Regions from separate parts of the Homo sapiens genome. Here regions 1, 2, 3 and 5 are each linked to region 4. Evidence: fine-mapped expression QTL. A gene starts in region 4. Each other region holds a variant in brackets. All regions are shown on one strand. Distances are from middle to middle. Region 1 overlaps OSTN (osteocrin). Region 2 overlaps CCDC50 (coiled-coil domain containing 50). Region 3 overlaps UTS2B (urotensin 2B). Region 4 holds the start of CCDC50 (coiled-coil domain containing 50). Region 5 overlaps UTS2B (urotensin 2B).

Region 1 (5,106 bases), 70 kb after region 4:
TGAGCCACCGCACCCGGCCAATAGTCACATTTCTAATTTTATCAGGTTGACATTCTGATTTCAATGGCACAGACCTAGAACTTGCTAATTTCATCTAGAAAAGCTAGGAACATTTAGACAAAATACTTCTTTGAATTTGAGTTGCTTAGAGCTAAAGCCTACTAAAAACTCAAAACTTTGGTACAATATATTAATGATTTCAGAAAGCCATTGCATAAATAGCAAATTATCGTCCTTTCAAAAATACGTATCAGGGAAGAAATTAGTGTTTGGTCTGGTAACTAGTGATGGAAATCAAAATATTTTACCCAAAATATACTTCCTTGACATATTTTGAAGTGGCTCCATAAAGCTGTTTTTTTGTGGGGGGATTTGCATTCATGCAGCCAGCCCTCCTCTTGTCTAGATCTAGGGAAGATTAACTGAGAGTCTAATGCTTTCAGAGGTCTGAAAAGAAACATTTGCCATCTATTCTCTCTGAGGGCTGCTGGGTTTTATCTACATAACAAGACTACCTTTGCTAGCCAAGCCTCTTTCTCTCTCCCATAACCTCTCTTGTCACTAAAACCTGTTTTTGGCCATGCTCTGAGCCTGCATTCTTTCTGTAACCTCAAGATAATATACAATTTTTTGAACACCATTAGTAGATTGGGTCCTTCATTCTGAAGGCTCCCCTGTATACACATTAAATAAATTTGTATCCTCTTCTCCTTTTAATCTTACATCTGCCGCATGTCAGTGATTTTCGGCAAACCTTCAGAGGGGCAAAGGTTAAAGTTAGCCCTTGGCACCTTCAGTTGGGTGCAGTGAGCAGCGAGATTAAAATTTCACCCCGCTGGAAGTCACAGTTACGAGAACCCAAGACCTAATCTGCTGGCAAAAAGAGTAAGAATTTCTTACCAGAAAAGCTCCTGGCCTCTATCTCTCTCTCTCTGTAATCTGATCAGGTGAATGGTAAAAATCACTCTTTCCTCTGCACAATTTTGATTAATGCGAGACAAAGATTTATGTGACTTAACTTGGGGTATAGTATCTCTGGTGTACTTTTTGGTACTTTGTGTATGAATATTCATATTGTTTGATCTCTTTCCTCCCAGAAACAGTCTTTTTCTTTGTCTCTGTCTTTCTGTGTTGTTCATAAAGAGGGATACCAAATAAAGTTCCCTCTTGTTCAGTTTTATGTCCTGGAGAGCTTGACATCTGACTAAGTGGGAGCAGTCTTTCCTGGTCTCCATCACCCGAAGGGCATGGTTGTTGGATCACATCAGGTGGCCATCCTAAAAATGCCTGGGAACCCAAGACTTTTTTTGTTACTAATCTCCCAAGCTCGGGGGCGGGGGTTTGTCATAAGAAGTCCTGTCCATAAGGAGCTTTTGTTTTCTCAGCCGTTGTTGCCTGGTTAATGCCGGGAAAGTCCAATCCCAGGAGGGGACACCTGGTGTCACAGATTACTGGCACCCCCCTCACAACTGTGACTGGCACCCCCCTCAGAAATTTGTGGGTTCCTTAATATCTGTGGCAACAAGAGTCTTTTGCTCTCTTAGCCTGTTTCCGGGAGTGAGATTTTTGGTGGGGGAATCTTTGGCATTGTTTTTGTCTATGCCCTAAAATTACATTCTGGCTTTACAGGAAGAGGCTTTTGGATTGAGTTGTTACTGGAATAAGTACACCACTGGAAACCCTAATTGTCGGTGGCCAGAAGACGGATCCTTTAAGTTAGACTAAAATTCCTAAATTAAAAAAAAAAAATTAGAGATATCTTACACCAAACAATTGATGCGAAGATTAAATTAAAAGGATACACAGGCTGGGCACTGTGGCTCTCCCCTGTAATCCCAGCACTTTGGGAGGGTGAGGTGGCGGATCATGAGGTCAAGAGATCGAGACCATCCTGGCCTACATGGTGAAACCCCATCTCTACTAAAAATACAAAAGTTAGCCGGGCATGGTGTGTGCCTGTAGTCCCAGCTACCCCGGAGGCTGAGGCAGGAGAATCACTTGAACCGGGGAGGTGGAGGTTGCAGTAAGTCGAGATTGTACCACTGCGCTCCAGCCTGGTGACAGAGTGAGACTCTGTCTCAAGAAAAAAAAAAAAAAAAAAGAAGGATACATAATAGGGTCATAGCTAGCTTTCAAAATTCTCTTGACTAAATTAAAGGGCAAAAATTTGACCTAAAACATTTAAAATCCTTTGTAAGAGATTGCCTGAGGGAATAACAATAAAAGCCATCCTGCCTTGTGGTCTAATAGTTAAAAGTCCATGCTTTCAGCATCAACGCCTGGCTTTGATACCCAGTCAGGGGGCCCTGTTGGTTTGACATCTGTGTGACTTTTGACTTTTTGGAGGTGGTCATTTATTTCTTTGGAGACACCTCATACATCCTTGGTTAAGTCAGAACCTTGGTTAAGGCTTATTAATTTTACCAGGGAGTGTATTTTGGTTAAAAAAAAAAATCCAGGCAAGGTGGCTCACGCCTGTAATCCCAGCACTTCGGGAGGCCAAGGCGGGTGGATCATGATGTCACGAGTTCGAGGCCAGCCTGGTCAATATGGTGAAACCCTGTCTCTACTAAAAATACAAAAATTAGCTGGGGGCTACAAAAAGTAGCCAGGGGGCGTAGCTCCTGG[C/T]TACTCGGGAGGCTGAGGCAGAAGAATTTCTTGGATCTGGGAGGCGGAGGTTGCAGTGAGCTGAGACGGTGCTACTGCATTCCAGTCTGGGCGACAAAGCAAGAGTCTGTCTCAAAAAAAAAAAACAGATTGTTTTCCCGTTTACTTTCACTTCTCCCTGCTTCTCCTTCCTCTTTGCCATTTTTGGTACCACAGGAAAAGGTCTAGAAAAGACTTCTAACAGCTCACACTCCTTAAGGGACTCAGAAGAAGGTAACTCAGAGTACTCTTACTCCTTTCTGGGAGTCTTCTTTCCTTGCAGTTTTAAGCGTCGTAGGCAACCTCCTGTGAGGTCTAAAACTCTGCTCTCTTTTGTATTGTGTTACCTGATCACTTTGGCTTTTGACCAGAAATTATTTGGTATTATGAGAGACTTGACCTTAGTGTATGTAATGGCTAGGCAAGAGTAACAGTGTTAGACATGGCCAACTATAGTTGTTTCCAATAAATGCTTGTTACTACAGGGGGCTACTCATTTGCACATTAGATGAACAACGGTGCGGTTTAAACACCCAGAAAAATGTATTTGCGGCAAAGTGACCAAAGTGTGTGGCCTGGTTTCCATGGTGCTTTCCTCTTTTGGGGGTACCTGGGATTCAGTGAAAGCCTTGATTTTTTTTTTTTTTTAATTATACTTTAAGTCCTGGAATACATGTGCAGAACGTGCAGGCTTGTTACATAGCTATACATGTGCCCTGGTGATTTGCTGCACCCATCAACCCGTCATCTAGGTTTTAAACCCCGCGTGCATTTGGTGTTTCTCTTAATGCTATCCCTCCCCTTGCCTCCTACGCCCCGACAGGCCCTGGTATGTGATGTTCCCCTCCCTGTGTCCATGTGTTCTCATTGTTCAACTCTCAGAAACCCTTGCTTTTTAAACATCTAAATGCTTTGCCTTTTAACTGCATCCACTTTTTTCATATTTAAATTATTAGGCCCTATAAACTAAAAATACTTTGTTAGCCTTGTTCCTTAATGAGTTCTGTCCTGACCTCAGTGGTCCACTTGAAAAACACAGACTGAATTAAAAGCTACCTATCTAAATGAGATTGCTCTCCTTATGCAATCTTACGGTTAATTCCTAAGGAATCTTGGCATTCATTTTTAATCTTCCTTTGACTACTCAAGCTTCTTGAAAAATCAAATTCTCTCTGTGCTTTGAGATATAAATTTGCTACCTGTTTTCTCTGAAACTCAGAAGGGGTACTCCAGATAAGCCTTAAATTTTTCCATTTACAAAGGCATAGTTTCAATCTGTCTTTTTAGACTAGTGAGTTTTACCTGTCTTATGGCTAAAATTCTAAAATCAAAACAATAAAGTCTTCATGTGCAGATGTGTATGCTATACCTTGTGTCTCTCTATACATACATGTATATGTATATATGTATTTATAGCTATACATGTTTAATATTGTCTACACATGGTACCACATTAATTTAAAAATAAATGAGTACTCATAAATTAAGACCAAATGCTTTTCAAGTTCATGTGATTTTAGCAATCTTTGAGAAATAAAGATAGTTTTAAAATTATTGGTAAAATAATATTAAAATGTCTTCAAAATTTTAATGTAGACATTTTTGTCTGAGTCTATTGATCAGGCAGGTTTATGGCCAAAAAATTGTTGCTTGATATTTTTGATACTTGATTAATTTGTTTCCGAGTCTGTGTATCTTGATTACAGCCTTTCGATTCAGAGGTCTAGACAGATGCCCATGATGAGGGTGGGGGATAACACCTGGTCCATCTTTCCTATCCCAGTTATGCCTCCCCTGCTGGGAGATTAGATTCTCTCCTATCCCAGTTATGCCTCCCCTGCTGGGAGATGCTGTGAGAAATTAGATTCTCCAGGCATTGTCTTTTGTCCTGGGCTCTGCATCTGATATGTAATTAAAATTACCTACTTCCTAGATTTTTTACTAAAATAAAAGTTACTAATTATTAACACTATAATAACTATATGTAGTCAAAACTACTAGATATAAGAGAAAAAATATGCAAAGTGTGTAAGGAAGTAGAGTATGTTTTTGGTAAGAAGGATTATAAAAAGGCATGTAAATTTGTGTGTCTATGGTCTTTTTTTTTTTTTTTTTTTTTTTTGAGAGAGGGTTTTGCTCTGTCACCCAGGCTGGAGTGCAGTGGTGTGATCATGGCTCGTTGCAGCCTTGACCTCTCAGGATCAAGTGATCCTTCCAACTCAGCCTCCCAAGTAGCTGGGACTACAGGCTTGCACCACAATGCTTGACTAATTTAAAAAAACTTTTTTGTACAGATGGGGTGCCCCTTTGTTGCCAAGGCTCGTTTCAAATTTCTGGGCTCAAAGTGGTCCTCTTGCCTTGGCCTCCAAAAGTGCTAGGATTACAGGCTTGAGCCACAACACCCAACCTTGGTTTTTGTTAAAGTGAAAGTAATTTTGTCTAGTTTAGAGGTTTTAAGGA
Region 2 (5,106 bases), 52 kb before region 4:
AAAATAAAAATGGCAATTTTTGAAAAATAACAACAAAAGTTAAACACACATACACGAAGAGTAGAAAATTCTGTAACAGACAAAGAAATTGGATTTCTAACCATAAGTATTACAAGCTCTACATAAGAATTTGTGTCTCACTACTACTATTACTACACTTCAGTAATAAACATCTTGACCTAGGAAGTGCCATGTTTTTCAATCCTTGAAACCAAATATTTCTGTATAGCTAAACTTTTCCATCATGATTAAATGTGAAAGAGGAAAACCAGATTCTAACCAGAAAGTATACATTCTGATATTAGTTGTGCAAGGTATCTACATATGCAAGATATATAAGCTTTATCTTTTAACTATGAAAATACAGGTTTCATAAAATTCCTCATTTTTTTGGTCATATATACAATCCTGCTAAAATGACATTTAAAGACAAATGTTCCTCTAAGGTAAAAACAAAAATTTCTATTCTACTAGCCCTAAGTCACTTTTCATTCATTTATAATAGCCATTTTTAATACAGGATCATTTGATTATTCACTCTTTCAGTATGCCAAATATTTCTAAAGTATCTATTATATTCCAAAAACTTGTTTTCAGACTTTAATAAACTTTCTTAAGAAATCATCCAGTACTGTTCCATCATATATGCTGTCAATGGTATTAGTATTCTAAAGAGGCCAAGGATCTGAAGACTGCAGAATTAAGCCTAAAGATGATTTAAATTCATTTGACTAAAAAAAGGATAATAATCCAGATGTATTTACTTACTAAGAACAGATTAGCTGCTGCTTCTTTTACTTGGATACTTTGGGAATGTACTAACCTATAGAGTTCTAAGAAAATGTTTGGCATGTGCTTAACCAAAAGCTACAACAGAAAGATTTTATATAACTAGACAGAATATGCCACTATTCTTCTCAGAGCAATACAAACCCAATGTAATTTTCTGAAAGATTATCTTCTGAAAGCAAATGAGTTTTAAAATAGAGGATTACTTTTTAAGGACACTAAATACATTCACTTGAAGGAAACAAGTCTAGGAGCTTCAGTGTGGGCATGAGTAGCAACAACAGTGTCAATTATTCAATGAAATAAGCGTTATGTTTCAAGAATTAACAAATAAGAATAAAATTCAAATTTGAATAATTCAGAGTTTTCAAAATTTTAAACTTAGTGTTACTTTTTTGTCTTGTTTTTAGTATCTTTTTCTTCACATTCCAATCATGTTTTCTTTCGAAAGGCAACAAAAAGCAATTAAAAAAAAAAAGAGGTTACTTCCCCAGAGACTTAAATGTTGACAACTTGAGGCAGAAAGACAGCAGCTGCTCCATAACTATTATGCACGACTGTTTGAGATAAATCAGAAAGTATGTACACCATAGCCACAGCTATTTGTTGAGTGGGATTTAGACAGTCTGCAAGGATTCAAGATTTTGTCAAGGACACTGAGACTCAGAAAGAAATGAGTTTGAGCATGTGCAAATGGCATGCACACATCAGTGTGGCTATGAAACCCGGTAAATATTTAAAACTCGAAATTTTATTTAGGAAAAAAAATCACTCTCATTCCCCAAGCTGAAAGCATAAATTCAGTGAATGCAGAGGTAAGAATCAGTCCTAACAAAAAGTACATTCTTCCTTATCCACCCCAACTATTGTAAAATTCTGATTTGATGTACACAACTCAATTTAAGAGTGGAAATAAAGTTCTAAAAATAACCCTGAATGTCTTGACACTACCTTACAAATGCAGATTTTTGGATCTCCTCTCCAAAAAACATACACTCTTCTTAGGGAACTGAAATCTCCTTATTCACCCCAAAGTCAACTTCCTCATTTTTCTTTTCAGGTGTCAGCTTACCGTGCTGGCCTTTCATTCTTAGAATGGTGAGGTTCATCACTCTCTTTTGACTTGGAATTTGCTGCTTTAGCTGTTTTTGGCTATGGACAAAAATACAAACAAACAAACAAAAATAACACACACATACAATCCAGAATCATCAAACAAAGGGAAAGATTAAGTTTAACGTATGTTTATCATGCCAAGCTCTTCCTTAGTAATTTCAGATTAATTATATTTAATTGAGGAACATAAAATATTTTTATATATGGCCACTCCAGAGGTAGAAAATTTATAGCTGCAAAGGTAGGCTTTGGGCTTACATGGAAGGTGTAATTTAGCCCACTCATCTGAAAGCCTTAGAGCAGCCAGAGGAATGGGCTGAACACACAGGAACATGCTTCCCTAGATGGGTGTGCTTGGCCACTGATTATTAACATAATAGCTACACAGTAATTGCCAAGAACCAGTGCACGCCCAGAGTCTACGGAATCCAGGTTTGTGCACTCAAACTTATTTCCGCACACATGTCTTAGGCTGATTTCCAGCCAGTAAACTAAGGCACATTCAAGTCAACTTTTCCAAGAGAGGAACTGTATCAGTACCAGTTATAAAATAAAAATTACAGAAGTCATGATGATACCTGCTAGAGATGTGGCCATTGCCTTCTGACACGCTTGATTCCTAATCCTTAAATACTTACCCTTTCCTAGTTAAGGTA[G/A]CAAAGAATCTGAGAAACTCCTGGGTAATTATTTGTGGCTTAATTTATTTAACAAAAGTATTTGGGAATCCTTGACTAAAACAGTATATTAGAAAAAATCTTGAATTACTGAGTTAGTTAAGAGAGAGCTAAATATACATAATTAATATGAGAATAATACATTCATTGTTTTGAGACTAACTCGTGGGTAACTGAGCAACAGGAAAGAGTACAGCAATACTATTAGCAGGGTTTCTACACCTTTTTCCTCACAACCATTACTGAGACTGTGAGGTGGGACCAGAAACCCAATGGAGGAATTTGTTCAAGAGAGACCAGCGCTAAACACCAACTGTGTAAGGAATACACAACCTAGGTTTCATTCTTCTGGGCCTAAACTCCCTCCCTAAAAACCCTGTATTGTACGAATTCTCTCCCTATTCCTCTGCTCTTTTTCCACCTAGCTTAACCTTCTATTTGTTAGCTGTCTACACTTTGTCTTCCTCTCTACATTATACACTACTATCAGGAAAAATGTCTTTGTCTTTCCATGGAGGTCCAAAGTGTTGTCTTACGCGCTGTCACTGATGAATAAAGTCTGCTAAGCTGGAACTCACAATTACCGCAGCAAAATGAATTGCAGTAACTGCTTATTTTGTCTACAATTTCTGATCAACGAGGGGAAAGATAACCGTCCAAACTCACGCTAGATAGGTCTTGCACTGTGACATAAATAATAATTGTTGGTGATAAGTATGTATCTTTCAGTCTGCCACAAACCATGTTACATCAAAGGAAAGAGAAACGGATACATGATAGAGATGAAAGATAATGTAAGCACAAAGAAAGTAGAGACGGGAAGAGAAGTTCATTGTGGAAAATATGAAAGCATGTGAAAATGCTATATTCTTCTATAATCAAAGTACTGTATATGAAAACTAAGACTGTTCATGACCAGAAGCACTTGCATTTCACTCCGTCTTAAAGGGAACAGAATGAGTTTTCAATCTTAGCAGTAACTTTTTACATATGTTCCAAAATTCAGTGATTTTTCATGGTGATGGAATCTTCACAGATCAGATTCACATATGCAATACAGATAATTTATATATTCATATATCCTAAATATATTTGCAGAGCTTAACTCAAAAGCAGAGTCCCCTTTTCATTTCTAATTTTATTTCTAATTAGAAAACAAACAAAACACACTCTACCTTCCACTCGGGGTCTTGCTTTCTTTTGTCCAAAGATGATTTCTCCCGCTCCTTGGCTTTTTTGTAAGCTTTCTTTTCTTCAGCCATTAGAAGTCGAGCGATTTCCTAAACAAAATACAGTCAATATCATTAACTGCAGAGGTGCAGATAGAAATATACTAGGATATTTCCAAAGAATATCAGCTAAACTCATTAACTTACTTCATCTTGAGCTACTTGAGCGGCTCTCATGTCCACCTGGGTAGCCTATGATATCGAAAATACAAAAACAAAGAATTTAATTGGAATCTATGTTGTGCATTTTCAGTATCTTGTACAAAATAAGCTGGTTTTTGAAAATAATTGTGACTCATGTTCCTGAGGTTGATAATCAGTTGGTATGCTTTCACCAGCCAGAGCAGGAGCTCTTTTTATCAAATCCTACAGCAGGGTTATGGAGAACAATCATGGAGATGGAGAAATGGAGTTATGGACTTTGCTGCTAATGCTTACTCACTAAGCAAAAGTGGATACTCTATTCCTATTGTCATGATTTTTCCACTCATAAAAAAAGGTTTCTCAATTGATAGAGGACTATTAATATAATTTCAAGATGGACTAGATTCACAAAAAAAATACCCATCAATATATCTAAACTTTTGCCTTAAAATTTGCTCACCAAAAGTTCTTCTTCTTGCAGTTTTCTGGCAATTTCAGCATCATACCATTCCTGATCCCTGTGGGCCATTCGTGATGGAGTAGATACAGCTTCTTTCATCACTCTTGGCTTCATTCCTTTAAAAAAAAAAAAAAACTCAATGTAATAAAACAACCGAGGATGTTTTCTGAAAAGTTAAGAAATTTAAGATAAAGGAGATTTTTCTTTAGTAGCTAACAATGACAATACTACCTCTACTCCAGAATACAGTGTGGGGTGCATTAAAAATATTTTTGCCCTAGGAATGGAAGTGGCAATGTAGATAATGCATACATTTAAACAAAGATATCTAAGCAAGCCTGCCTGGTAAAAAGTCCCCTCTCACATAGTTTCTGCAACAGCAGAAATTTATGTAAGAAGTTGCAAGTGAGGCCCTGGAAAAATACAAAGTGAAAAAAAAGTCATTGAAAACAAAAATAATTTAAAGAAAAGCAAATTACAGAGTCAGAGTTTAAAAGAGGCTAAGCTGTCAAGGCTGGAGGAGAGTAGAGGCTTCTTTCTATTTATCTCAGCCTGCATACTTACTACTTCCGAGGGAGCAGGAACAGCAGCACCTGGCAGTCATGTGATAATACCTGTGAGACAAGCAGTGGTCCTGCCATGGCTTTTCCTCTGAGAGTAAATAAACCCACTCGCTTTAGAACTTCCCCACAGC
Region 3 (5,106 bases), 40 kb after region 4:
TAAAGACCTAATTAATTATAAAGATATTCTGTGTTCACAGATCCAGGCATAACATTTTTAAGATGGAAAAATTCTCCAAATTAATTCACAAATTTAGTGCAACCTCTACCAAAATCTTAGCTTCCCTCCTGCAACCTCTTTTTTTTTTTTCAGAAATTGGCAAGCTGATCCTACAATGTATATGGAAATGCAAGGGATACAGAGAAATCAAAACAGCTTTTCACAATAGACCATTAGAAGTCTCACACTTTCCAATTTCAAGGCTTACTACAAAGCTACATTAATAAACAATATTTTACTTGTATAAGAATGGACAAATTGGTCAATGGAATAAAATTTATAGTTCAGAAATAAAACCATACATCTATGACAAGCTACCAAGACCATTCATGGGGGAAAGAATTATCTTCTAAACAAATGTGGTGAGACAACTAGATATCCACATGCGAAAATAAATAAATAAATAAAGGTGAAACCCAACCTCACACCATATATAAAACTTTACTTAAAGTAGATCAGGCCGGGCGCGGTGGCTCACGCATGTAATCCCAGCACTTTGAGAGGCTGAGGTGGGTGGATCACGAGGTCAGGAGATGGAGGCCATCTTGGTGAACGTGGTGAAACCTTGTCTCCACTAAAAATACAAATAATTGGCCAGGTGTGGTGGTGGGCGCCTGTAGTCCCAGCTACTCAGGAGGCTGAGGCAGGAGAATGGCATGAACCCAGGTGGTGGAGCTTGCAGTGAGCCGAGATGGCGCCACTGCACTCCAGCCTGGGTGACAGAGTGAGACTCTGTCTCAAAAAAAAAGAAAGTGGTTCAAAGACCTAAATTTTAGAGTTTCACTATAGAACTCTTAGATAATAATATAGGCATAAATCTTTGTGACTTTCAAGTAGCTAATAGTTTCTTATAGTACTCAAAAACAAGAAACACAAGAAAAAATAGATACATTGGACTTTTTTCAAATAAAACCCTTTGTTCTTCAAAAGACATGATCAAGAAAGTGAAACTACCCTCAGATTGTGAAAAAATGTTTTCAAATTATGTATCTGATAAGGAACTAGAATCCAGAATACAATGAACTCTTACAACTTAACAATAAAAATACTCAATTTTTAAAAAGGGCCAAGTATTTGAACAGATGTTTCTACTTTATTTCAACAAATTCAGGCCATTGTTAACTCTTTTAAATGAAAAAAAGAACTCCAAGCACCGTCTTGTCAGGATGTCAGAAACTCTACTTTTGCTTCCTTCCTTCCGCTATTTTTTTCATTTAACTACATGTAAGGAATTCTACCAAGAATTAATAGTCAGAGAGAAGTAAAAATAAAATTGTTCAATTTTCTTACTACAAAAAAAGTAATAAGGCCAAGAGCTTACTGGAGTCTGAAAGTAATTATTCAAATCAGTTTGAGTCACCATACAAACACTTATCTGTGCTTTTCTTGTCACTCATCGTGAGAAATAGTCAGATGCAAGTGAATCTTAAAGCTATCTGTTCCCTGTAAATTATAACTTGACGAAGCCTTCATTGACAAAATGGAAATGCCATTTATATCCTGTAATTGATACATAGACTGAGTTATTAAAGTATTGCTATTGAAAATACAAAGTTCAAATGTTTCTAAGTTTTCTTTAAAATGGGGGTCTCTGTTATTGGAGCAATCATTTTCTATCTCTGTGTTTCCCCAATTGTGATATGTGGGCAAGAGATCATGTGGGTTAAGCATGTAGCTCTGCGTTGGGTAGATCTGGGTTTCACTTTTGGTTCCAAAACTGTCTTCTTTTACTGTAAAAGATGAAAAATTATAGTTGTGCAATTGTTGAGGGATTGCTATGGAAATTAAATGAGGTACTATTTGTGAGGTGCTTAGTACAGGGCCTGGCATGTGATGATTGCTCAATAAATGGCAACAATAATATTGCTATATACTATAAATGTGTATAACAAGAACTCCTCAAACAAATATTCTAACTTCATTTATCCATCCAATACAATCGATAGTAAACATCTGCTTTTATTTGAATGATTTGGTTATGCACTCATGACAAGAATTTAGTATTTTATTAAGGAGAGAGAGAGATAAAAGATTTAATTAAAGATCTTTGCAGACTTTTCCCCAAAGTGGATGGAAATGGTCATGAAACAGGGACTTCTTTGTCTATGTCTCTTTTTAAAAATCAATTCATTAAAAATTTGACAAAATTCTGTACATCTATTGTGTACAACATGATGTATTGAAATATGTATACATTATGTTATGACTAAATTGAAGAAATTAGCATATGATTCCTTCACATACAACATTTTTGTGTGGTGAGAACACTTAAAATTTACTTCTTTAGTGATTTTCAACAATAAAATACATTGTTATTAATGATATCACTAGGCTGTACAGATTTCTGAAACTTAACTTCTGCTATCTAACTGATATTTTGTGTCTTTTAAACATCTCTTACACATTCTCCCTTCCCCACAACCCAAGCTCCTGGTAACTACCATTTTCCTCTCTGCTTCTAATAGTTCACATTTTCTTAGATTCCACATAAAAGTGAAATTATGACAAATAAAAATATTTGTCCTTCTGTGTCTGTTTTATTTTATTGAACATAATATCCTTCAAGCTTATATATTTTATCACAAATGAGAGGATTTTCTTCTTTTAAATGACTGAAGACATTTCAATTGTGCATATATACCACATTTTCTTTACGTTTTCATCCCATCATAGACATAGCTTGATTCAATATCACGGCCATTGGGAATAATGCCGTGATGAATATGTTAGAGCACTGAACATATTAATTTC[G/A]TTTGTTTTTTATTTATTTATTTATTTATTTATTTATTTATTTATTTATTGAGATGGAGTCTTGGTCTGTTGCCCAGGCCGGAGTGCAGTGGCGCAATCTCCACTCACTGCAAGCTCTGTCTCCCAGGTTTACGCCATTCTCCTGCCTCAGCCTCCCGAGCACCTGGGCCTACAGGCGCCTGCCACCATGCCTGGCTAATTTTTTATATTTTTAGTAGAGATGGGGTTTCACCATGTTAGCCAGGATGGTCTCGATCTCCTGACTTCGTGATCCACCCACCTCGGTCTCCCAAAGTGCTGGGATTACAGGCGTGAGCCACTGCGCCTGGCTGATTTCTTTTAGATATATAAACAGTAGTGGGAATGCTGGATCATCTGGTAGTTCTATTTTTAATTTTTTGAGGACTCTCCATAAGGTCTTTTGCTTATTTTAAAGCTGAGCTGTTTTCTTGATATTGATTTGTTTGAGTTTCTTAGATATTTTGGATACTAACTTCTGTGCAAAAACTGTTTAGTTTGATGTAATCTCGTTTGTTTTTGCTTTTGTTGCTGGTGCTTTGGAATCGTATCTCAAAAAATCATTGCTCAAATCAATGTCACGAAGCTTTTCAGCTGTGTTTTTTTGCAGGAGTTTTATAGAGTCCAGTCTTAAGTCTTTAATCTACTTTGAGTTGATTTTTGCATATAGTGTGGGATAAAGTAGTAAATAGTGATATACAGCTTCAATGCAATCTCTCTTAAAAATTCCCATAAAATTTTGTACAGAAATAGAAAAAAGTAGTTTTTTTTTTACAGTAGATTTACAGTATCAGGCCTTAAGTCTTTAATCTACTTTGAGTTGATTTTTGCATATAGCGTGGAATAAGGGTCTACTTCTATTCTTTTGAATGTGAATATTCAGTTTTTTTGACACCACTTATTGAAAAGACTCTCCTTTCCCTGTGGTATGTTCTTGGCATCTTTGTTGAAAATCAATTGATCTTCAGTGGGATTTACTTCTGGGATTTCTATACTATTCCATTTGTCTATTTATCTGTTGTTATGCCAGTGGCATGCTCTTTAGATAATGATAGTATTGTAGTATATTGTAGTAATGTAGTGTATGTGATGCCTCCAGCGTTTTTCTGCCCAAAATTGCTTTGGCTATTTGGGATCTTCTGTAGTTCCATACAAATTTTAGGATTGCTTTTATTTCTATTTCTGTACAAAATGTTATTGGAATTTTAAAAGAGATTGCGGTGAAGCTATACATCACTTTTGGTAGTATGTACATTTTAACAATATTAATTATTCTAATTCATGAAAGCAGGCTATCTTTCCATTTGCTTGTGTCTTTCATCAATGTTTTGTTGTTGTCAGTATACAGGTCTTTTACCTTATTTGATAAATGTATTCCTAATAATTTTTTGAGGGGATATCCATTGCAAATGACATTCTTGATTTCATTTTTGGGTAGGTCATTGTCAGTATATACAGAGGCCAGTGATTTTTGAACATAGATTTTGTATCCTGCAACTTTAATGAACTCACATAGTATTTCTAAATTACTGGATGGAATCTTTAGGGTTTTCTATATACATGATTAAGCTGTCTGCAACAGGGACAATTTAACTTCTTCCTTTCCTATATGGATGTCTTTCCTTTCTTTCTTTTTTTCTAATTGTTCTGGATACCTTTTCTTTCTTTCTTTTTTTCTGATTGTTTTGGCTAGGACTTCGAGTACAATGTTGCGTAGTAATGGTGAGAGTGGGCATACTTATTTTGTTTCTGATCCTAGAAGGAAAGGTTTCAACTTTTTACCTTTGAATATAATGTTAGCTATGGGTTTTTCATATAGGGGCTTTATTGTGCCGAGGTACATTCATTCCATACTTAATATGTTGAGAGTTTTTATCATGAAAGTTTTTATCATATACATTTTATCATGTTTTTTCTGCATCTGTTGAAATTATTGTATAGTTTTGTTCTTCGTTCGATTAATTCGGTGGATCACATTTATTCATTTGTGTATGTAAAACATCCTTGTATCCCTAGGATAAATCACACTTGATCATAGTGAATGATCATTTTAACGTGTTGTTGATCTTGGTTTGTTAGTATTTTGCTGAGGATTTTTGTGTCAATGTTTGTTAGGGATATTGGCTTGTAGCTTTCTGTTCTTGTAATGTCTTTATCTGGCTTTGGTATCAGAGTAATCCTGGCCTCATAAGTTTGGAAGTATTATTTCTTCTTAAATTTTTTGGAAGAGTGTGACAATGATTTGTATTAGTTATTTAAATGTTTGGTTGAATTCAG
Region 4 (5,106 bases):
CCAAGGTATAAATACTACCATAGGTGTATGTGTGTGTGTTTTTTCAAAAGGTCTGTCCAAATGATGAATATTTTTGACTTCCTTAAAAACTAAGTAAGCAAGCATTAGATTTCAACCTAGGAAAGAAGATTTTTAAATATCCCCTTACCCTAATGTCAGCTGCTACCCACGACCTCTATTGAAATGTTCACGACAAAAGGTCACAGGGTGCCCCATCCCCTCCTAAACAGCAATGGAAACGGGCACACACTCACTGCACTATTCTTCTTAATCTCTATTGGAATCTACCCCATGATACCAAATTGAATATAAATTGTAACTGCATATATATCTATCAAAAGTTTAAATTAAAAAGTAGAGGAGACAGATACAGGGATTTTTTTGAATGGGGTTCAAAAATCTGCATCAGAATATTAAACTAATTACTACTACTAACCCTTCTCAAATGAAGTTGGAGTTTCAATATTACCACAGTCTCAATGTTTGCACATGTTTTACCCTATCAGGGGCACAAGCTTCATTCTCTTTAATTAGGATAAAGACACTGTTAGGGAGTAACTGGGCCATAATTAAGAGTTATATTAGGGAAGGATACACTTTATTAGACTTGAATACTTCTCAGATCAAAAACTTCACCACCATTAGTAGGACATTCCTAGTATAATACATCACTTCCTTTGATGATCTTGGAACTAGAAAAGTCAGATGTTTACAAAGACAGTGATCTCATCGATTCCTGACCACCTTCAAAATTAATATTTAATTGTAACTTAATGAAAGAGCCACACTGAATTTTCTTACCAATTTACCAGATTACATAAAAGAGATTGCCAAACACCGTATTACGCAAAATGAAAGCTAATTTAAATGTATTAGACTCTAGAGTGTGGAAATGGAAAAATCTTGCATTTTTATATGGAAGGTGTTTGTGGAACTCCTTGAGAAATAATATGTTAGAATACATCATTCATGTCTTGGTACGAAATCAGAAGACCTAAGGGTAATATAAATGTATATGAAGAGTTTTATGTTTTTTCACTCACATGAATAGGGGATTGGATAAAATCATAGCACCATATGATTAATACTATACATACCAGGTTTTGTTTGAACTCCAATTCTCATTCTACTCACCATGCACTACACACTGCACAAGGATCACTCTTTCTCTAGAGACAAACCCAACACATACCCACACAAAAAACCCTCATATCCAAAAGTAAAGGATAACCAGACAATCTCTAAGATAAGAACTCTCAAAAGTATGGATCCGCCTTTCCTATCGCTCAGCCTCCTTAGTCTTGACAGCAGAGTGAAAACTGTTTTCTACAGGTGAAAGCCCTAAGTCTTCATCAAAGCCATACCAGGGACGGAAAGGTAGAAAAGTATTAACGCTAAAATCTCACGCCTAAGCTTTAACACCCTTCCGGAACAGTAAGACAGAACTAGGCCCATCAGAAATTCTACATAAAATCAGTGACCACTAGTCACTAGTCTCCTAGTGCTTGAAACTCTGAGAAAGCAATCAAGCAGTCCCTCATTTTCCTGAGATTTTTGGGCTGGCCTGAGCACACACAAGACCAACGGAGTCAAATTAAGTTGGCAATAAAACAAGCGGTTCCAAGAAAGCAAAAACTATTTTCAATTCCACATCTCCAAGACGCCTCAGGCTACAGTATTCAATCGATACAAATGACATTCACAACAGAAGCCGATTTTGCAAAGCCCTTGGAACTTAGGGGTCTGCGTCAGCACTCTGGAACGTCTATGCTTCCTAGGACCAAAGAATAAACAAAGATAACTCAAGGCATAAGGCGATCCAGCACCTAAGATCTCAGCAAAAAAAAGCTAGGTCCTGAGGCAGCTAGTGGAAAAACAAGAGAAGGGAAGTCAAAAGGCTACTTGCTGTCAGCTAAAGCCAGGTCAGTACTAATCTCTACTTTCCTGGACATTGGTACAAAAAGCAATGACAAGGCCATCAGTCCCCTGTTCCCCTCGCTCACTATTGTGTGTGTGTGTGTGTGTGTGTGTGTGTGTGTTTTGTTTGTAAGAAAATGCTTATAGTGGCTTCCCGCCCGCGCAGAACACAGCCAAGACTAAACTTTTAAACCTTGAGGAAGGTGGGAAAGTCAGCCAGCCAGACGCCGGCCTAGGAAAAGTAGGGAGAGAAGGAGGGAAAGAGTCATGTTTCAAAACAAAGGCTCCACACGGAACTGAATGTCAACCCCTCTCCACTTCCCAGCCTTCAAGCCAGCCAGGCTGGGCCTCGATTTTTTAGAAGCGGAGTAAGTCAGATTCACCCGGCTCTCAGCGTCCACTGAGGCTTTGCGATGCACGAGAACACGGGCACAGCCACCTACTTGCTGGGGCTGCTGCTAGCCCCCCCCCCCCCCAACCACCCCCTTGAGAAAAAACGGGCTTGGAACGTCGGAGACTTGCCCAACGTCCCACACTAGAACCTGAATTCAATTCCTTTCACGTCCGGGCAAGGCCAACGCAGGGCGGGCACCGGGCGAGGGCCGCGGGAGCCGAAATGGCAACGCCCCTGACCTGAGAGAACCTCGGGCTGGGAGAGGGGAGGGTCCCGCGCGCTCTCCCTCCGGGGCCCTTACCTTCCTTGACTCCAGGCAGCTTGGACTGGTCGATGCTGACTTCAGCCATACCGGGCCAGGGTCCCGGTTGCCCCTTTAACGCGGGCTTCCCGGTCACCGCCGGCGCCGAGCGGGGCCCCGAGCGCAGCAGCAGCGCCGGACGCGGCGCAAAGTCCGGCCGGCAGGGCTCGCAGGCCGGAGAACGGAGCGGGTCGGGCGGGCAGGGGCTGGTGACCAAAGCAGCGGGAGACGGTCCCCGAGGCACCAAGCTGGCGGCCCAGCTGCCCCGCCGCGGCCACCTGCTCCGCGTCCCCGGCCCCAATCGATACCAAATATCCGGAGCCCGGAAATGGACCGGGGCCGTCCAGTACGGAGGGAGAGAGGAGACAGAAAGGCGGGCGGGCCGGCTGGGGGAGGGGGAGCTGCAGGTCTGTAACCGCAATTGCGAGTGGCTGGCGAGCGAAGATCAGCGCCCGCTGCCGCCTCGCTGTTGTCTCCTTTGTGCTCAGTGACGCGCCGCCTGAGGCTGGGGCCCCGCTGTGCTCCCGCCCCCGGGCCCTGCCCCCCTCCTACGGGAGGGTCGCGTCTTTAGGTGGGGGCCTTGTATCCTAAAGGCCTCAACAAAAAGGCCACACGGGTCACCTAAAACATAGTCTTTCCCGTGAGCGGTGTAGTCAGCATTCTGTGGTCTGGTTCTGGGATTGAGATTAACACAGGATGTTTACTGCATGCTTGCCTCTCTCTCATACACTCTTTTTGCACCCGGAATTAGAGGAGAGATGGTAGATGGCCATAAAAACCCCAAATACAACGTACAGAATGAAGAGCAGCTGATAAAATTCTGGGCCAGTTTGGAGTAGAGTGTGTACACAATCAGCTGGGAGAACTGAGTCATTCATTCATCAAAATCGCATGAATGTGTCTACCAAGTGTGATGTTAGGTACTGTGGGTGATAACGAGGCGTCAGACTTATCTCTGTTATAGCGCTGCACACATTGGATTGTAATTGTGACATTTCTATCTCTCTAAAATAGACAACCTCTCCTGTTTCATCTCCTGGCAACAGAATGCATCCTCCTTTTGGGAAACTGCCTCTTTCCCCACTCCTCAGAGGTGAGCTTCTCTCCCAAACGTGTGCCATGTCTGAACCTCGAGACTACCCCATCACTCTTCCCCCTTCCTCCACCGACATGGGTTCATCGAAGGGTGGCTGGGTGACCAAGACAGGTCAAACAGAATACTTTCCTGGGTACATAAAGAGTTACATATTCTGTTTCTTGTGGAAAAGATCTGCCTCTAGGAGATGATGAGGCCAAACTGAAGACAGAAGCAAAGAGAAGAGAAAGGGAGATGAAGAGGGCATGTTCTGATGTTACCACAGTAGCAAAGCAGGATATCCCCAGAGCAGCTGGCATTTCAGCAACTCCTGGATTCTGGGATCTACAACCCGCAAACTCTCAACTTATCCTCAGTTTTGCTTAAGCTAGTAATAGTTGATTTTCTGTCACTCACAGCTCAGAGTCCCAGTATGAGAGGCCACGTAGGGGAGGTTTTATTTGAACTTGACATTGAAAAGTAGGTGGATTTTAGGCTAGCAAAAATTTAGAAGACTTTCAAGGCCAGAGGGTAGCAAAGTATAGCCCACAGGCCAAATCTACGCCACTGAATTTGAATGACTGTTTTTTATATGTTCAAATAATTACATTTCAAATCACTACATAAATAGGACATAATATTTTCGACCTTGCCTCTTAAGCCTCAAAGTCTAAAATATGCTTTACAGGAAAAGTTTACCCACCCCAGTGCTAGGCAGAGATAACACTCAGCAGGTTAAATGTGGGAATAAGAAGGAAGTGGTATTAGAAAGGTAGATTTATGGGAATTTTTTAATTGTCCTGTAATCTAGTAATTTTTTTTAACTTCCTGTGGTCTAGAGAATATTTATAACAGCAGTATTTTCTGTTTCCCTCCCCAAATCTATCGTTTCTACTTCTCTACCAAGCCGTGCCTTTGGATGCCTACAGATAAATCACTAGGCCCCTTTGACCTGTGGCTTCCTGTTGTGATTGACCAATGGGAAGCACTGGCAGAAAATCAAAAGAAGGGAGGAGAGAAATATCAGAGTATTCTTCTTTCCTTTAACCCAAAATTTTGGCCACAGTCCTGTCCCTCTATGACTACAGGGCCTGTGTAGAGGCCTCTTTTCCATGGCCTCAGCTCTCATGGGTCTCTAATAAAACAATTTGTTTCCAGTGTCCCTTCAGGCCTAGAGTGTGATGGCTTCCCCTAGTTCCTTTTGGCTCACTGCAACTTCTGCCTCCCAGGTTCCAGTGATTCTCGTGCCTCAGCCTCCCGAGTAGCTGGGATTACAGGTGTGCACCACAACGCCTGGCTAATCTTTTGTATTTTTAGTAGAGGCAGGGTTTTGGCATGTTGGCCAGGCTGGTCTGGAACTCCTGGCCTCAAGTGATCCGCCCACCTCGGCCTCCCAAAGTGCTGGGATTACAGGCACGA
Region 5 (5,106 bases), 29 kb after region 4:
ACAAATGCTGTTTTTGTGCAGATGAAGTTTCTCAGGTAGCAGTCCACAGAAGAATAGGTAGTGTCAATCTTTTTTCTCCTTTCCTGTTAGTTAATCTTCGCTATTTGATGATATTATTGTAAGGAGGGGCCTCATGACAATTGCATTCCTTTCACAGGAACTTTCTTTAGTGAGTTAAGGGAACTTTAGAGAGAGCCTCTTCATGCCTGCTTTGGGAGGGAAAGAGGAGCAAGAGACTAGGGGAACAGAGAAGGTCAGAGAGGCCTTGTTTCTCCTTTAGTTCAAAGCACTCAGCGTAACAAAAGTGCCATATTCTGGGGCATAATTTTTCTGAGTCCCAACAGTTTCTACAACCTTTGCCTTCCAGAGAATCCTTTCTTCTCAATCTCCATGTCTTAGCAAAGCAAACAGTAGTGCCAATAAATCTGAGTTTATGTTGTTATAGTAGTTAATGGACTTAACGAACAGCTCAGCTAAACAATCATATACAGGCAGGAGGTATAAATTATACAGGTGTCACAGGTTGAAACCTAGAATTGAGTTTCAGCCTGGGAGGCCACATGGGTCCATGGCTTTGCCCAGGAAGGAATTCAAGAGTGAGCCAACAGAATTAAGTGAAAGCAAATTTGTTAAGAAAATAAAGGAATACAAGTATGGCTACTCCATAGGCTGAGCAGCCCTGAGGGCTGCTGGTTGGCTGTGTTTATGGTTATTTCTTAATCATATGCTAAACAAGGGGTGGATTTTTCATGAGTTTCCTTGGAAAGGGGTGGGAAATTAGAGGAACTGAGGGTTTCTCCTCCTTTAAGACTACACAGGGTAACTTTCAGAGGTTGCCATGGCATTTGTAAACTGTCATGATGCTGGCGGGAGTGTCTTTTAGTGTGCTAATACATTACAATTAGCTTACAATGGGCAGTGAGGATGGCCGGAGGTGACTTTCAGCGCAATCTTGAATTTGGTGGGTTTTGGCCTGCTTTTCGATTGCATCCTATTTTATCAGGTCAGTGTCTGCATGACCTGCATCTTGTGCTGACCTTCTATCTCATCCTGTGACTAAGAATGCCTAACCCCCTGGGATTGCAGCCCAGCAGACCTCAACCTAATTTTACCCAGCCCCTATTCAAGATGATGTCACTCTGTTTCAAATGCCTCTGACACAAGCAGGATAAAAACTCCATAAATATTGACTCCATCTAACAGATTCTGTCAGAGGAAGAAATCTCATTTTGATAATGACATCTTTCTAGAGCACTGCTCTTTGAATAGGGTTTCCATAGATGTATTAATATTACCAAAAATTGGCCGGGCGTGGTGGCTCACGCCTGTAATCCCAGCACTTTGGGAGGCCGAGGCGGGCGGATCACAAGGTCAGGAGATCGAGACCATCCTGGCTAACTCGGTGAAACCCCGTCTCTACTAAAAATACAAAAAAAAATTAGCCGGGCATGGTGGCGGGCGCCTGTGGTCCCAGCTACTCGGGAGGTTGAGGCAGGAGAATGGTGTGAACCCAGGCGGCGGAGCTTGCAGCAAGCCGAGATCACACCACTGCACTCCAGCCTGGGCGACAGAGCGAGACTCCATCTCAAAAAAAAAAAAAAAAAAAAATTACCAAAAATTTAGTTAATAAAACAAATACCAATTGTTCAGTATCTAACTTCATCTATAACTCAATGTTTTGATAACATTGAAGAATCTTCACAGTTCTCAACACTCTTGTGGTGAGAAACTCAGTGAAACTTGTGGAAGACAAGGTAGTGGCACTGTGACTCAATGAAGACTGAGCAAAATGGCATTTTGCAAAGCCAGGGATGTCTGAACTACTGTATTTTTTTCCATTCAAATCTTTAGGGCACCAGCTAGAATGAGACAAATTTTCTTTTCTAGTTTCACTAAAGCTTATGCAAATTCTTGAATCTGTTTCACCACCCGGAAAGACAGCTAAAATCCACCTAAAGAGGAACAGGCTGGGTTAGTCAAGGAAAGAAGGTGACATATTTTGGTTAGGGCAGTAAGTCACTTTCATAAATAAAGAAGAAAAAGTGATAAAATGGAATGCACACAAAAATAGATTTATGGAGGAAAAAGAGTAACCATACCAAGAATATTAGTTTTTTCTCAAACTGCTATAAATAAATACCTGAGAATGAGTAATTTGTTTTAAAAAGAGGTTTACTTATTGTATGGTTTTGCAGATTGTAAAGAAAACATAGAGCTTCTGGGGAGGCCTCAGAAATCTTACAATTATACCTGAAGGCAAACATAAAGCAGGCACATCTTACATGGCCAGAGCAAGAGCAAGAGAGAGAGGGGGCAGTTGCCACACACTTTTAAACAACCAGATGTCATGAGAACAGCCCCAAAGGGGGAATTCTACCTCCATGATCCAATCACCTCCCACCAGGCCCCACCTTCAACACTGGAGATGACAATTTGATGTGACATTTGGGTGAGGGCACAGAACCAAACCATGTCATTCTGCCTCTGGCTCCTCCCACGTTTCACATCCTTCTCACATTGCAATACAGCCATCCCTTCTCAGCAGTCCCCCAAGTCTTAACTCATTCCAGGATTCACTCAAAAGTTAGTCCAAAGTCTCATCTGAGACAAAGCTAGTGCCTTCTGCCTATGAGCCTGTAAAACTAAAAACAAGTTAGTTATTTCCAAGATACAATGGATTTACTGGCATTGGGTAAATACTCCCATTCCAAAAGGGATA[A/G]ATTGGCCAAAAGAAAGGGGCTACAGGCCAGGCACGGTGGCTCACACCTGTAATCCCAGCACTTTGGGAGGCTGAGGTGGGCGGATCATGAGGTCAGCAGTTTGAGACCAGCCTGGCCAACATGGTGAAACCCCATGTCTACTAAAAATACAAAAATTAGCCAGGCATGGTGGTGGGCGCCTGTAATCCCAGCCACTCGGGAGGCTGAGCTGGGAGAATCGCTTGAACCAGGAGGCAGTGGTTGCAGCGTGCCGAGATTGCACCACCGCACTCCAGCCTGGGTGAAAGAGCGAAAACTCCGTGTCAAAGAAAAAATGTATATATGTGTATATATAAAAAAAAATGTTAAAAAAAGAAAAGAAAGGGGCTACAGGCACCATGCAAGTCTGAAAGCCAATGGGGCAGTCATTAAATCTTAGAGCTCCAAAATAATCTCCTTTGACTCCATGTCTCCTATCCAGGGCACATTGATGCAAGGAGTGGGTTCCCAAGGTCTTGGGCAGCTCCACCCCTGTGACTTTGCAGGGTTCAGCCCCCGTGGCTGCTCTCAAGGGCTGGTGTTGATTTCTTGTGGCTCTTCCAGGTGCAGGGCACAAGTTGTTGGTGTATCTACAATTCTGGTGTTTGGAGGATGGTGGCCTTCTTCTCCCAGCTCCATTAGGCAATGCCCCAGTGGGGACTCTGTGTGGGGGTTCCACCCCCACACTTCCCCTCTGCACTGCTTTAGTAGAGGTTCTCCATGAGGGCTCAGCTACTGCAGCAGGCTTTTGCCTGGACATCCAGGCTTTGCCGTACATCTCTAAAATCTAGGTGGAGGCTCTCAAGCCCCAACTCTTGCACTCTGTGCACCCACAGGTTTAACACCACATGGAAGCTGCCAAGGCTCATGGCTTGCACTCCCTGAAGCAGCAGCCTGAGCTGTATCTGGGGTCCTTTTAGACGTGGCTGGAGCTGAAGCAACTGAGCTGTGAAGAGCAGTGTCCAGAGGCTGCAAAGGGTATTGGGGCCCTTGCCCTGGCCCACAAAACCATCCTTCCGTCCTAGACCTCTGGGCATATGATGGGAGGGACTGCCCCTAAAGGTCTCTGTAATGCCTTGGAGGCCTTTTTCTTACTGTCTTGGCTATTAGCATTTGCCTACCTTTTATTTATGCAAATTCCTGTAACTGCCTTAAAATTCTACCCAGAAAATGGAGTTTTCTTTTCTACTATATGGCTGAGCTGCAAATTTTCCAAACTTTTATGCTCTGCTTCCCTTTTAAATGTAAGTTCAAATTTCAGATCACTTCTTTGCTCCTGCATAGGAGCATATGTTGTTGTTAGAAGCAGCTTGGCTACATCTTGGATGCTTTACTGCTTAGAAATCTCTTCTGCCACCCTAAATCATCACTATCAATTTCAAAGTTCCACAGATCCCTAGAGCAGGGGCATAATGCATTCAATCTCTTTGTTAACAAATAACAAAAGTGACCTTTGCTCCAGTTCCAAATAAGTTCCTCATTTCCATCTGAGACCCCCTTTATCCTGGACTTCACTGTCGATATCATTATCAAGATTTTGGTTATTACCATTCAACAAGTCTCTATGAAGTGCCAAGTTTTCCCTCATCTTCCTATTTTCTTCTGAGCCCTCCACACTCTTCCAACCTCTTGTTACCCAGTTCCAAAGCTGCTTCCACATTTTCAGGTATCTTTATAACAGTGCTCCACTCCTTGGTACCAATTTTCTGTATTAGTCCATTCTCACAATGCTATAAAGAAACATCTGAGACAGGGTAATTTATAAAGAAATGAGGTTTAACTGGCTCACAGTTCTGAAGGCTTTACAGAAAGCATAATGGCTCTGGGGAGGCCTCAGGAAACACAATCATTCCTGAAGGCAAAGGGAAAGCAAGCACATCTTACATGGCCAGAGCAGGAGGAACAGAGAGAATGGTGAGGTGCCACACACTTTTAAACAACCAGATCTCATGAGAAATCACCCACTGTCATGAGAACAGCAGGGGGGAAATCTACCCCATGATCCAAACACCTCCCACCAGAATCCACTTCCAATATTGGGGATTACAATTTGACATAAAATTTGGGCAGGGGCAAAAATCCAAACTGTATCTCCAAGTTAAAGCAGTGACTGTTTTTTTTGGAATTCAATGTATACATTTTTCACAAGGTTATTGTGGGTCTATTATTGTGCTAGGTACGACATTGGGTGTTAAATGTATAAGAATCTTGGCTTACCTTTTTTCCCTAAAAAATAAAAAGATGAATATATATGCTACAACTAGGCAACAGTTGATGATAAGAAAGGATTCATCAAAATATTGCCACAGAGTGTTCAAAGGGAAAGGATCTCAGATGTAATTAGCCTAAACATCTTACATGTTAGAGA

The links. PIP is the estimated chance that this variant, and not a neighbour inherited with it, causes the effect.
Region 1: its variant is fine-mapped to the expression of CCDC50 in whole blood (TOPMed, PIP above 0.99).
Region 2: its variant is fine-mapped to the expression of CCDC50 in whole blood (INTERVAL, PIP 0.97).
Region 3: its variant is fine-mapped to the expression of CCDC50 in whole blood (TOPMed, PIP above 0.99).
Region 5: its variant is fine-mapped to the expression of CCDC50 in whole blood (INTERVAL, PIP 0.96).

The regions. Positions count from the first base shown.
Region 1 is chr3:191,256,848-191,261,953 of GRCh38, reverse strand. All of the region lies in intron 4 of OSTN (osteocrin), which reads right to left. Among named protein-coding and RNA genes, the nearest start is that of OSTN-AS1, 25 kb to the right of the region's middle. The variant C/T (reference allele first, on the strand shown) is at 2,629.
Region 2 is chr3:191,379,581-191,384,686 of GRCh38, reverse strand. CCDC50 (coiled-coil domain containing 50) reads right to left here. Exons shown (of 12, transcript NM_178335.3): 7 at 4,413-4,528; 8 at 3,956-4,000; 9 at 3,755-3,859; 10 at 1,862-1,941. Among named protein-coding and RNA genes, the nearest start is that of PYDC2-AS1, 43 kb to the left of the region's middle. The variant G/A (reference allele first, on the strand shown) is at 2,562.
Region 3 is chr3:191,287,164-191,292,269 of GRCh38, reverse strand. All of the region lies in intron 4 of UTS2B (urotensin 2B), which reads left to right. Among named protein-coding and RNA genes, the nearest start is that of CCDC50, 40 kb to the left of the region's middle. The variant G/A (reference allele first, on the strand shown) is at 2,812.
Region 4 is chr3:191,327,230-191,332,335 of GRCh38, reverse strand. CCDC50 (coiled-coil domain containing 50) reads right to left here and starts at 2,942. Exons shown (of 12, transcript NM_178335.3): 1 at 2,613-2,942. The coding sequence starts at 2,661. It overlaps UTS2B (urotensin 2B), which reads left to right and starts at 1,810. Exons shown (of 9, transcript NM_198152.5): 1 at 1,810-1,922; 2 at 3,627-3,705. RefSeq lists enhancers at 2,173-2,773, 2,774-3,375 and silencers at 2,787-3,066, 3,167-3,246.
Region 5 is chr3:191,297,986-191,303,091 of GRCh38, reverse strand. The region is part of intron 4 of UTS2B (urotensin 2B); the gene reads left to right. Among named protein-coding and RNA genes, the nearest start is that of CCDC50, 29 kb to the left of the region's middle. RefSeq lists enhancers at 632-1,157, 3,434-3,493, 3,504-3,683. The variant A/G (reference allele first, on the strand shown) is at 2,720.